Regions from separate parts of the Homo sapiens genome. Here region 2 is linked to region 1. The links come from fine-mapping of genetic effects on gene expression. Tissue or cell type: whole blood. Region 1 holds a variant in brackets; the other region holds the start of a gene. All regions are shown on one strand. Distances are between the middles of the regions.

Region 1 (5,000 bases):
TCCTTGGCCCACGGCTGTGTGTGGACAGGGAGCACACTGAACGTTCACGCGTCATTCGCATCTGTGGCGGCTTCTATTTTCTGCCAGGTCCTTTCACGCAGCTGCATCCTCAGGGCTGGTCACAAGTGGGTGGCGGCTCGAGCTCTCTCCAGTCTCTGCTGCACGTCTTTGGCGAGATCACAGCTGCTCCCAACCACACTGTACTTCATTCTAGCAGACCTCTTGGCCTTTTCTTCCTCCCTCCACTGAGGATGCTGGTGGGCAAGGCCACTGCCCACTGCTCTAAACGGAGTAACCCCTTCCAAGGCAGCAAGGAAACTGCAGGTCCTGCAGCTGCCCTGTCCCAGTGGAACCTCCGTGCTTCCCAAGTGCAGAGTGGAAGCAGTAAAGGGAGCAGCTCTCAGGCCAGAAGGTCAGATTCTTACTGCTTTCACCCACAGCTCAGCAGTTTTCCAAGCATCAGTGCTTCTCAGATTATCCTTATCAGTTTCCTTTTTGTCAGAGACAAGGTCTCCCTACGTTGCCCAGGCTGGCGTCATGCGGTCCTCTGGCCTTAGCCTCCCACGTAGCATATGCTACCATACCCAGTTCTGGATTGGCTGATCTGAATCGGCCCTACCCAGAAGTCTGCCCCCAACAATTTTTGCTCATTCACTCTCCTGTCTTTACCTTCTGGGAAATCAATATGACAGCCCAAATTTCATCTACCAACCTCCACTTCTATCCCAAGCTGTACTCTCGTGGGACAAGACACACTCAATGTCTGGCACAGGGTGTGGCATACATGAATGTTTCACACACTAACAGGAACTAGGCCAACTGAAACCTTGCTCACCCCGCAGCGGTCTCGGACCTTGACCCCTGGGCCTCAGTGTCTCCCACACCCTTCGGCATCAACAAGAACCAGCGCCCTCTCATCATCTTTACATGCTGTGTACCCAGCCCTGGCTGCTGGCAAACATCGCTGCCCTTCCGCTTCAGACTCCTCTCTTCCTGGAGCAGCTTGCAAGCTTTCTGTGGACTCACTCTGAAGGCGGAGATGGGCCTGCTCCCACCTGGCCTACAGCCTTTTTCCTGGTTCACGGAACAGATCTGGGGCTACACCGATGTTCTTTCTTGGGAATCTGGCTCATAAAGGGGAACGAATATATAAACTAATGGCCAGGAGTCCTGGGAGTCCAGGGTCCCGAATTCCAGACTGTTTCAAGGTTTTTAGGATCTCCCTTCTCCTTTTTTTGAGACAGTCTCACTCTGTCAACCAGGCTGGAGTGCAATAGCATGGTCATAGCTTACTGCAGCCTTGACCTCCAGGCTCAAGGGATCCAACCACCTCAGCCTCCTAAAGTGCTAGGATTACAGGCATGAGCCACCGCGCCCGGCCGGACATGCAGATTTCTGATCCCTTCATTGTCTTCCCTCAATCAAATCACACCCGTTCTTACTTCCAGATGCAGTGAAAACTCACTCCCTCAGGACAGTTCTCTTGGTCAGCCTCGTCCAGCGTTCACTGTGCTGTTTCCATGTCTACCACTTCTGCACCAAATGTGACTTCTTCTTTTTTTTTTGAGACGGAGTCTCGCTCTGTCGCCCAGGCTGGAGTGCAGTGGCGGGATCTCAGCTCAATGCAAGCTCCACCTTCCGGGTTCACGCCATTCTCCTGCCTCAGCCTCCCAAGTAGCTGGGACTACAGGTGCCCGCCACCATGCCCAGCTAATTTTTTGTATTTTTTTAGTAGAGACGGGGTTTCACCATGTCAGCCAGGATGGTCTCCATCTCCTCACCTCATGATCCGCCCACCTCGGCCTCCCAAAGTGCTGGGATTACAGGCGTGAGCCACCACACCTGGCTCAGATGTGACTTCTATTGCCAAATTCTTCTTCATTTCTAGGATGGGACACACTACCACAGCCCTTTTATAAAGTCCTCAACTGACCCAGCCGACTCACCTTTCTCTCCTGGAATGCTCCCTTGCCATCTCCCTTCTCTTCTGTCTTTCCCATTCCCGGCGAGCTTTATCCTGTTCTTCTCGATGCCGTTTCCGACGTTCGTGCTCTCTTTCTTTTTCTTTCACTCTAGCATGCTTCCCTAATGAGAAATAAAGTGTCATGCAAAGAAACCTCACTTCAAAAATTTCACATGAAGCCGGGCACGGAGGCTTATGCCTGTAATCCTAGCACTTTGGGAGGCTGAGGCGGGCGGATCACCTGAGGTCAGGAGTTCAAGGCCATCCTGGCCAACATGGTGAAACCCCGTCTCTACTAAAAATACAAAAATTAGCTGGGCGTGGTGGCAGGCACCTGTAATCCCAGCTACTAAGCGAGGCTGAGGCAG[A/G]AGAATTGCTTGAACCCGGGAGGCGGAGGTTGCAGTGAGCCGAGATCACGCCACTGCACTACAGCCTGGGCAAAAAAAAAAAAAAAACCCACGTGAAACTGAAATTAAGACCGGGCGCGGTGGCTCACGCCTGTAATTCCAGCACTCTGGGAGGCCGAGGTGGGCGGATCACAAGGTCAGATCGGGACCATCCTGGCTAACACGGTGAAACCCCATCTCTACTAAAAATACAAAAAATTAGCTGGGTGTGGTGGCGGGCACCTGTAGTCCCAGCTACTCGGGAGGCTGAGGCGGGAGAATAGCGTGAACCCAGGAGATGGAATTTGCAGTGAGCTGAGATTGCGCCACTGTACTCCAGCCTGGGTGACAAGCAAGACTCCGTCCCAAAAAAAAAAAAAAAAGAAATTAAATCAAGAACAGTAAATATTTAAATAAATATTTAAATAATGATGTTAACGTTAAGTAATCCTAATTTTTCTTTTTTTTCTTTTTTTTTTTTGGAGATGGAGTCTTGCTCTGTCGCCCAGGCTGGAGTGCAGTGGCGCAATCTCGGCTCACTGCAAGCTCCGCCTCCCGTGTTCACACCATTCTCCTGCCTCAGCCTCCCGAGTAGCTGGTACTACAGGCGCCTGCCACCACGCCCGGCTAATTTTTTGTCTTTTTAGTAGAGACGGGGTTCCACCATGTTAGCCAGGATGGTCTTGATGTTCTGACCTCGTGATCTGCCGGCCTCGGCCTCCCAAAGTGTGGGGATTACAGTTGTGAGCCACCGCGCCCGGCCTTTTTTTTTTTTTTTTTTTTTTTTAAAGAGACAGGGTCTCGCTATATTGGCCAGGCTGGTCTTGAACTCCCGGACTCAATTGATCCTCCAAAGTGCTGGGATTACAGGCCTGGGCCACTGCACCCAGCCGAATAATCATGATTTTATGTTAAATAAAAAACTTTGAAAATAAAAAACTATCTGCAGTAAGCGTCTAATTATGAAGAAAGAAGAAAAAAGAAAAACAATTCTGCTATCACAGAAGAGCAGAATTGTAATATTCGTCTTTTAAAACTTTTCCATACTGAATAAACTATAATTATCAGTTTTATAATACAAAAATCACTCTTCACAAAGACTACAGAACAAAGCTTTGCTATCAGTGGGCTTCTCCACTGTGCAATGAAGCCACATTAATTAATCAAGTGTATTTATAATCATGACATTTCAATCGGGCTCCAGGTCCAATTTTCCTAACACCCGTAAGAACCTCCTGATGTTGGTACGAGATCAAACTGCTCAAGCCAAACCCATTCTTTGGACTTGAGCAAATACCCATTTTGGGGTGTGTTTTTCTCCTATACTTGTTGAATTCAGGTCATTTTAAATGTAAACAAACTGCTTCCAAACAATATAATGGGGGAGAGAAAACCCCAGAGGAAAAATGGACTAGCCATTCTGAATGGTCTGTGACACACGCACGCTTTCAGCTAGAGTTTGCTCTCTCTGGTTTTCGGTCTGTGATACACGCATGCTTTCAGCTGGAGTTTGCTCTCTGTAGCCCCTCTGAACGGTCTGTGACACACGCATGCTTTCAGCTAGAGTACTCTATAGCCCCTCTGAATGGTCTGTGACACATGCACGCTTTCAGCTAGAGTACTCTCTCTATAGCCCTTCTGAATGGTCTGTGACACACGCATGCTTTCAGCTGGAGTTTGCTCTCTCTGGTTTTCGGTCTGGGACACATGCATGCTTTTAGCTAGAGTTTGCTCTGTATAGCCCTTCTGAACGGTCTGTGACACACGCATGCTTTCAGCTGGAGTTTGCTCTCTATAGCCCCTCTGAATGGTCTGTGACACACGCATGCTTTCAGATAGAGTATTCTCTCTATAGCCCTTCTGAATGGTCTGTAACACACGCACGCTTTCAGCTAGAGTTTGCTCTCTCTGGTTTTTGGTCTGTGACACACGCATGCTTTTAGCTAGAGTTTGCTCTGTATAGCCCTTCTGAATGGTCTGTGACACATGCATGCTTTCAGCTAGAGTTTGCTCTCTCTGGTTTTTAGTCTGTGACACACACATGCTTTTAGCTAGAGTTTGCTCTGTATAGCCCTTCTGAATGGTCTGTGACACACGCGTGCTTTCAGCTAGAGTTTGCTCTCTCTGGTTTTTGGTCTGTGACACACGCATGCTTTTAGTTAGTTTGCTCTCATAGCCCTTCTGAACGGTCTGTGACACATGCATGCTTTCAGCTATTCTCTCTATAGCCATTCTGAATGGTCTGTGACACACGCACGCTTTCAGCTAGAGTTTGCTCTTTCTGGTTTTCGGTCTGTGACACACGCATGCTTTCAGCTAGAGTTTGCTCTCTCTGGTTTTCGGTCTGTGACGCACGCATGCTTTTAGCTAGAGTATTCTCTCTATAGCCATTCTGAACGGTCTGTGACACACGTATGCTTTCAGCTAGAGTTTGCTTTCTCTGGTTTTTCAGTGGTGCTCTGGGGAAGGCAGAAGAGTAGGAACAGGAAAGAAACCACACTTGAACATGATGTCAAAGAAAGTAAATGCTTCTGTACCCCCTTCTGCTGAATGGCTACGATGCCTACGTTTCTCTTTTCTCTTTTCATCTTTTCTGTGATGAGCTTTTTCTTTCCGAGACATTTGCTGGGGTGGTTTGATGGCCAAAGAAT
Region 2 (6,822 bases), 43 kb after region 1:
ACGCCTGTAATCCCAGCACTTTGGGAGGCTGAGGTGGGTGGATCACCTGAGGTTGGGAGTTCCAGATCAGTCTGACCAACATGGAGAAACCCCATCTCTACTAAAAATACAAAGTTGGCCGGCATGGTGGCACATGCCTTTAACCCCAGCTGCTCAGGAGGCTGAGGCAGGAGAATCACTTGAACACGGGAGGCAGAGGTTGTGATGAGCCAAGATCGCGCCATTGCACAACAGCCTGGGCAATAAGAACAAAACTCTGTCTCAAAAAAAAAAAAAAGAAACAAAAAAAAATATATATATATATATACATACCATAAAGTGAAATCAACAGCCACAACCTGGGAAAAAATACTTGCAACATGGCAAAGGATTAATATCCAGAAAGTATAAAGAATTCCTACAAACCAAGTAGAAAAACAGGCAAAAAAAAAAAAATGTTGGCGGGGCATGGTGGCTCATGCTTGTAATCCCAGCACTTTGGGAGGCCAAGGCGGGCAGATCACCTGAGGTCAGGAGTTCGAGACCAGCCTGGCCAACATGATGAAACTCCGTCTCTACCAAAAATACAAAAATTAGCCAGGCGTGGTGGCAGGCGCCTGTAATCCCAGCCACGCAGGAGGCTGAGGCAGCAGAATCACTTGAACCTGGGAGGCGGAGGTTGCAGTGAGCTGAGACTGCGCCTGCTCCAGCCTGGGTGACACAGCAAGACTCCGTCTCAAAAAGTAAAGAAAAAAAAAAAACAAAACAACATATTTCACAGAGAAGAATTTATGTTTTTGGAGAAGGAGTTTCGCTCCTGTCGCCCAGGCTGGAGTGCAGTGGTGAGATATCAGCTCACTGCAACCTCAACCTCCCAGGTTCAAGCGATTCACAGAGGACAATTTCTAAAAGGCAAATAAGAAGCAGGAAGGGTGCATGCTCCTTCTCTACTGCCCTGTAACAGTCATTCCACACTTACCACCTCAAAACAACAAATGCTTTTGATGTTGGCTCCTGTGGGGCAGCAATCTGCGGGAAGCTTAGCCAGGCACCTCTGGCTTAAGGTCCCTCCTGAAGCTGCAGTCACACCATGGACCAGGGCTGTGACCTCATCCGAAGGCTCAACTGGGGCTGAGGCCCACCTCTGAGCTCACTCAGGTGGACGCTGGCTGGGTTCAGTTCCTTGCTGGCTATAGGTGGAAAGGGCCCCCACCAGTTTCTTGCCAGCTTCTCCACAGGACGCCCCACAGCCTGACAGGAGCTTTCATCCAGCAAGCTCATCAGGGAGTGGGAGAGAGCAGCCAGGACAGGAGCCCAGACCTTTCTGAACCTCATCTCAGAAGTGACATCCTTCCCTTCTGCTGTCTGGGCACAGCTCCCCGGGTGGAGCCCGAGGACTAGAAGGAAAAGAAAACTTGGATTTAAAATGGGATAAAGCCATAGGAGCTGCTCGTCCCACCACAGGAATCTCAACGCCGGGTTACTGACAAAGCGTCACTTTGCACCTCGTCCAACTGTGCAGACCTCTCCTAGCCAGGCCCCTGCACCAGAGGTTAAGAATCCGTGCCCCTGGTCAGGAAGTCCAGGTGGGTTCAAACGGCCAGCAGGGAATTTCAGGCAAAATGTGTCCCAAATCTTCAAACCATGCCCCAGAACTCAGACCTCCCCCTGGGAGTTCGTCCCAAGGAAACCACCTGCAAGAGGCTCAGGCTGCAGGGGACACTCCGCTTCCAAAACCCGGAAGCTGGAGACCACACAAGTGCCCAACGCCAAAGGCACCCCGTGGAGGGACGCCCTGTGCCCTCCCCCGACCAGGTGACCCGCTGCGCCCTACACATCTTCACCAGGAAACATCTGTTATCGATGTGGACGAAGCGCAGCCTGCACTCCCAGATCCGCTCATTTTCGTTCTGCCCTCCGTTTTACGATTCGCCTACACTGAAAATGCGTGAGTGGAGTGGAAAGCCTTCCTACTCCTGCCTCAGCGACCCCTTCTAAAATACTGCCTCGTTTGGCCTGAAAATGTGATTTGCAGGCTTCCTGAGCAAAGTAGATTTCACTCCATTAAAGAAAAAAAAAAAGAAAAGGCACCGAACGGGGCTCGGCTGTCGGGAGTTTTGCTTTAGTTTTTTGCGTGTTTTGTTTTGTGTTTTTTTGTTGTTGTTGTTCTTTTTGCGGCCACGCACACCGCGTTCCCAGGCTTCAGGGCGTGGGGGTCGCCGTGGACTCCCGGACGTGAAAACGCTTAAAGCCAGCTGGGAAAACCCCACCAGCGTTTTCCGCGCACAGCGCCAGCCATAGGAAAGGACCCCCAGGAGCGAATCCGGGCAGGGAAACCCCGGACGCCCGCACACTCAGCATCAGTACCGGCACCCAGCACCCAGCACCGAGCACCGAGCACGCAGCACCCAGCACCGATCACCGAGCAGAGCACCCCGCACGCAGAACCCACCGAGAGCCTGATGCAGTCTCCGCCGCAGGCATAGCGCTAGGCCCCGGCGCCTTCACAACAAAGGGACGCTGGCGGGCGGGGCCTGAGAGGCGCGCGGTGGAGGGGCCGGGCGCGAGGCCGCGGAGACAGCTCGGAGCTCGGCACTGGGGAGTGGCACAGCGCTGGCGGATCCAGGTGGGCTTCACGGGGCGCCCGCGGGACCGGAAATGACGCGCAGAACCCTGCATCGGGCTCCTCGCTGCCCCGCGGGCGCCGCTCCTCAGTGCCCCAGAGCCACGGAGCCGGGGAAACGCGCCGCGGCCCACAACGCCCCCGCGGCTGCCCGTTGGTTCCGCCCGGGCCGTTCTACTCCAGGCAGACGGGAGGAGAAACACGGCGCGCTCAGCGTCCCCTCCCCCGTTGGTTCTGCTCGGGCCCTTCCACTGCAGGCCGACGGGGGTGGAAACACGCAGTTTTTTTTTTTTTTTTAAGGTCTAGGGTAACACGGGGCTTTTAAGTGCCTCTCCGCTGCCGCCTGGTGGTCCAGCCCGGGCCGTTGCAGTGCAGCCACACGGGGAGGGACACGGCGCGCCGAGTGCTCCGGGCGGCCGCACGTTGGTTCCGCCCGGGCCGTTCCACTGCAGGCAGAGGGAGAGGACGACGGTGCGCGTAGTGCATCCCCGTGGCCCGTTGGTTCCGCCGGGGCCGTTCCACTGAAGGCAGAAGGGGGGGGACCGTGGCCCCACCCCCCGCGGCAGCCCGTTGGTTCCGCCCGGGCGGTTCCGCCCGGGCTGTTCCACCAGCGGCACTTCAGGGCGGGATCGGCCAGTCTGTGGAGGCAGCGGCCTCTAAGCCCCGGAGGGTTTACTGCCCAGGTTTGGGTTCCAGGAATAAGAAATCCACTGAATAGGCTTAACTTAGAAGACACAAAGGCGCCTCCTGGCGGAAGTGGCCACGCTCCGCCCAGCCTGAGGGAAAGCTGCTCTGACAGCTGGGCCCGGAGCTGCGGGGGGCGGGGCCGCCGCGCGGGGTGAGGACTCGCCTCAGGGCGCTGATTGGCTGGTGGCGCGCTCCGGGGCGGGGCCTTCGTATCCAGGCTGGCGTCGGGGCTGCCGCGGGACATCCGGAGCAGACACCCGCGGGCGCGCCTGCGGCCCCGAGGACCCCCGGCTCCGGAGCTTCGTCGAGCGTTTTCCTAGCGTTACTTTCCCAAATAATTTTCAGGAATGAAGTTACGGCTAAAGGGCTCTTTAGAGATTACTTTTGGGCCGGGCCCGGTGGCTCACGCCTGTAATCTCAACACTTTGGGAGGCCGAGGCCGGCGCATCACGAGGTCAGGAGCTTGAGACCAGCCTGGTATGGCCAACGTGGTAAAACGTCGTCTCTACTAAAAATACAAAAATTGGCCGGGCGTGGTGGCGGGCGCCTGTAATCCCAGCTACTCCGGAGGCTGAGGAAGGAGGATCACCTGAACCCGGGAGGCGGAGGTTGCAGTGAGCCGAGATGGCGCCACTGCACTCCAGCCTGGCGACAGAGCGAGACTCCCTGTCAAAAGAAAAAAGAAAAGATTACTTTTGGCCGGGCGAGGTGGCTCACGTCTGTAATCCCAGCATTTTGAGAGGCTGAGGCGGGCGGATCGCCTGAGGTCAGGAGTTCGAGACCAGCCTGGCCAACATAGTGAACCCCCCCCCATCTCTACTAAAAATACAAAAAAAAATTACCCGGGTCTCGTGGCGCGTGCCTGTGGTCCCCGCTACTCGGGAGGTTGAGGCAGGAGAATCGCTTGAACCTTGGAGTTGAAGGTTGCAGTGAGGCGAGATAGCGCCGCTGCTCTCCGACCTGGGCGACAGTGGGAGACTTCATCTCATAAATAAATAAATAAATAAATATTACTTTTACGTTTTGTTAAACTTCCACTTGTTTTTGTTTCCGTTGCATGAACCTTCGTAAAGCTTCAGGAGGCTGATGGCAGCCTCCTTCCCCAGGCTTCCCCGTGGCGCCCGCAGCCGGGTTGGGCCAGAGGCTGGGACTGTTTCCTCCCGTGGGGTCTTTGGTGGGGATGTCCCCAGAGGAGTGGGGCAGGAGGAGGGGCACGGAGCGCCCCCGGGAGCCGGTCAGAGCGCAGCGATGGTGTCTGTGGTTCCAACCACTCGGGAGGCTGAGGTGGGAGGATGGCTTGAGCCTGGGAGCTTGAGGCTGCAGTGAGCTAGAATCACAGCACCACACTCCAGCCTGGGCGACAGAGTGAGACCCTTGTCTCACAAAAAAAAAAAAAAAAAAAAAAAAAAAAAAAAAAAGGCTGGGTGCGTTGGCTCGCGCCTGTAATCCCAGCACTTTGGGTGGCCGAGGCGGGCGGATCACGAGGTCAGGAGATCGAGACCATCCTGGCTAACACGATGAAACCCCGTCTCTACAAAAAATACGAAAAAAAATTAGCCGGGCATGGTGGCACGTGCCTGTAATCCCAGCTACTTGGGAGGCTGAGGCAGGAGAATCACTTGAACTCAGGAGGCAGAGCTTGCAGTGAGCCAAGATTGGGCCACTGCACTCCAGCCTGGCGACAGAGTGAGACTCCGTCAAAAAAAAAAAAAAAAAAAAAAGGAAGAAAGAAAATTATAAAATGAAGTGAAATTAACGCAGTGGAGTGCCACCTGCCTGCTGCCTGAGTTCACTATCCACACGGAGTTCATAAATTTGAGAGCAGTTTACAAAGTAGATTCTCCTACTTTCCAGGAAACCCAGAAATGTCTGGTGATTTGCCCAACAGTCTCAGCTGTTGTGGTCAGCAGGGCCGCTGTGGTATCCAAATGATTTCAAAAGCAGATTTATAAAAAGTACTCCTTTTTTTTTTGAGATGGAATTTCGCTCTCATCGCCCAGGTTGGAGTGCAGTGGCACGATCTCAGCTCACTGCAACCTCCGCCTCCCGGGTTCAAGTGATTCTCCTGCCTCAGCCTCCTGAGTAGCTGGGATTACAGATGTGTGCCCTCACGCCCAGCTAATTTTTATATTTTTAGTAGAGACAGGGTTTCACCATGTTGGCCAAGATGTTCTCCATCTCCTGACCTTGTGATCTGCCCGCTTCAGCCTCCCAAAGTGCTGGGATTACAGGCGTGAGCTACCCCACGCCCGGCCTTTATTTTTTTTTGAGACGGAGTCTCACTCTGTCGCCCAGGCTGGAGTGCAGTGGCGCGATCTCGGCTCACTGCAAGCTCCACCTCCCAGGTTCAAGAGATTCTTCTGCCTCAGCCTCCCGAGGAGTTGGGATCACAGGCACCCGCCACCATGCCCAGCTAATTGTTTTGTATTTTTAGTAGAGACGGGGTTTCACCGTTGTTAGCCAGGATGCTCTTGAACTCCTGACCTCATGATCCACCCACCTTGGCCTCCCAAAGTGCTGGGATTACAGGTGTGAGCCACCACGCCTGGCCTCTCAAAGTTTTTATAGCAAAGCCTTACATTTCATGAGGAACCATGCATTTTATTTTATTTTTGAGATGGGGGATCTCGCTACTTTGCCCAGGCTGGGCTCAAACTCAGGGCTCTCTGGCCTCAGCCTCCCGAGTAGCTGGGTCTGCAGGTGGCTGTCACCGTGCTGGGCCTGGGGTGTGCGTATTAATGATTTTGGAATAGTGTCTGGAAGCCTGTGTGCTTTCCTCTCTTCCTCTCCCCAGAAGGACCTCCCACCTCGTCCTCCCAAAGTGTTGGGATTACAGGTGTGAGCCACCATGTCCCCTCTCTTTGCTATTTTGCCTGGGAGGAGTGTATTAATAATTTTAATTTTAAAGTTCTTTGATTATGTTCTAGTTTGATTATTGATCATTTACTTCTTAGCTATTTATATTCTTCCTTGAGTCATCGGTTTCTGCCCTTTGACAATTTTTCTGTGAATGTTTTGTGTCGATTATATGAGCTTTGTCTGTATTGAGAACATCCACGAATTGTATTATTGCATCTGTTTTGCTAGTTGAGAACATCGACCTGCTGTATTATTGCAAATGTTTTCCTGCTTGCATGTAGTCATTTGTTGTGCATATTAATGAATTTCTATCCACATGACGCCGGAAGGGGATAGAGTGGGTGGGGAGGAAGAGGGAAGGGTCCCCACCTGGAGACCCAGCCTGCAGGCCACTCGGCCACCTGCGCAGAGGTAGGGGAGCAGCAGCCGCTCATGCCCCTGCAATTTGTCCTCATCAGCAGGTGGGGAAACTGAGGCCGGGGAGTTCTCCAGGCCAAGGTCACTCACGGGCAAGTTCCCGCAGCCTTTGGACCCTCCATACATGTCAGGGCCGCTCATGCTTTCCTGGGCCCTTCACTGGTTTGGAGGAACCATCCTGTTTCCCAGAGCGCACTGCCTGTCTCTGAGTGTATGTGTCTCAGTGGCGTCCATGTGTATTTTTCTGTGTGTGTATC

The links. PIP is the estimated chance that this variant, and not a neighbour inherited with it, causes the effect.
Region 2: it holds the start of SLC35E2B, and the variant in region 1 is fine-mapped to the expression of SLC35E2B in whole blood (TOPMed, PIP above 0.99).

The regions. Positions count from the first base shown.
Region 1 is chr1:1,647,553-1,652,552 of GRCh38, forward strand. It overlaps CDK11B (cyclin dependent kinase 11B), which reads right to left. Exons shown (of 20, transcript NM_033486.3): 4 at 4,887-5,000; 5 at 1,947-2,085. Among named protein-coding and RNA genes, the nearest start is that of CDK11B, 9.0 kb to the right of the region's middle. The variant A/G (reference allele first, on the strand shown) is at 2,332.
Region 2 is chr1:1,690,018-1,696,839 of GRCh38, forward strand. It overlaps SLC35E2B (solute carrier family 35 member E2B), which reads right to left and starts at 2,778. Exons shown (of 10, transcript NM_001290264.2): 1 at 2,432-2,778; 2 at 959-1,376. RefSeq lists an enhancer at 2,313-2,607 and silencers at 2,442-2,601, 3,172-3,251.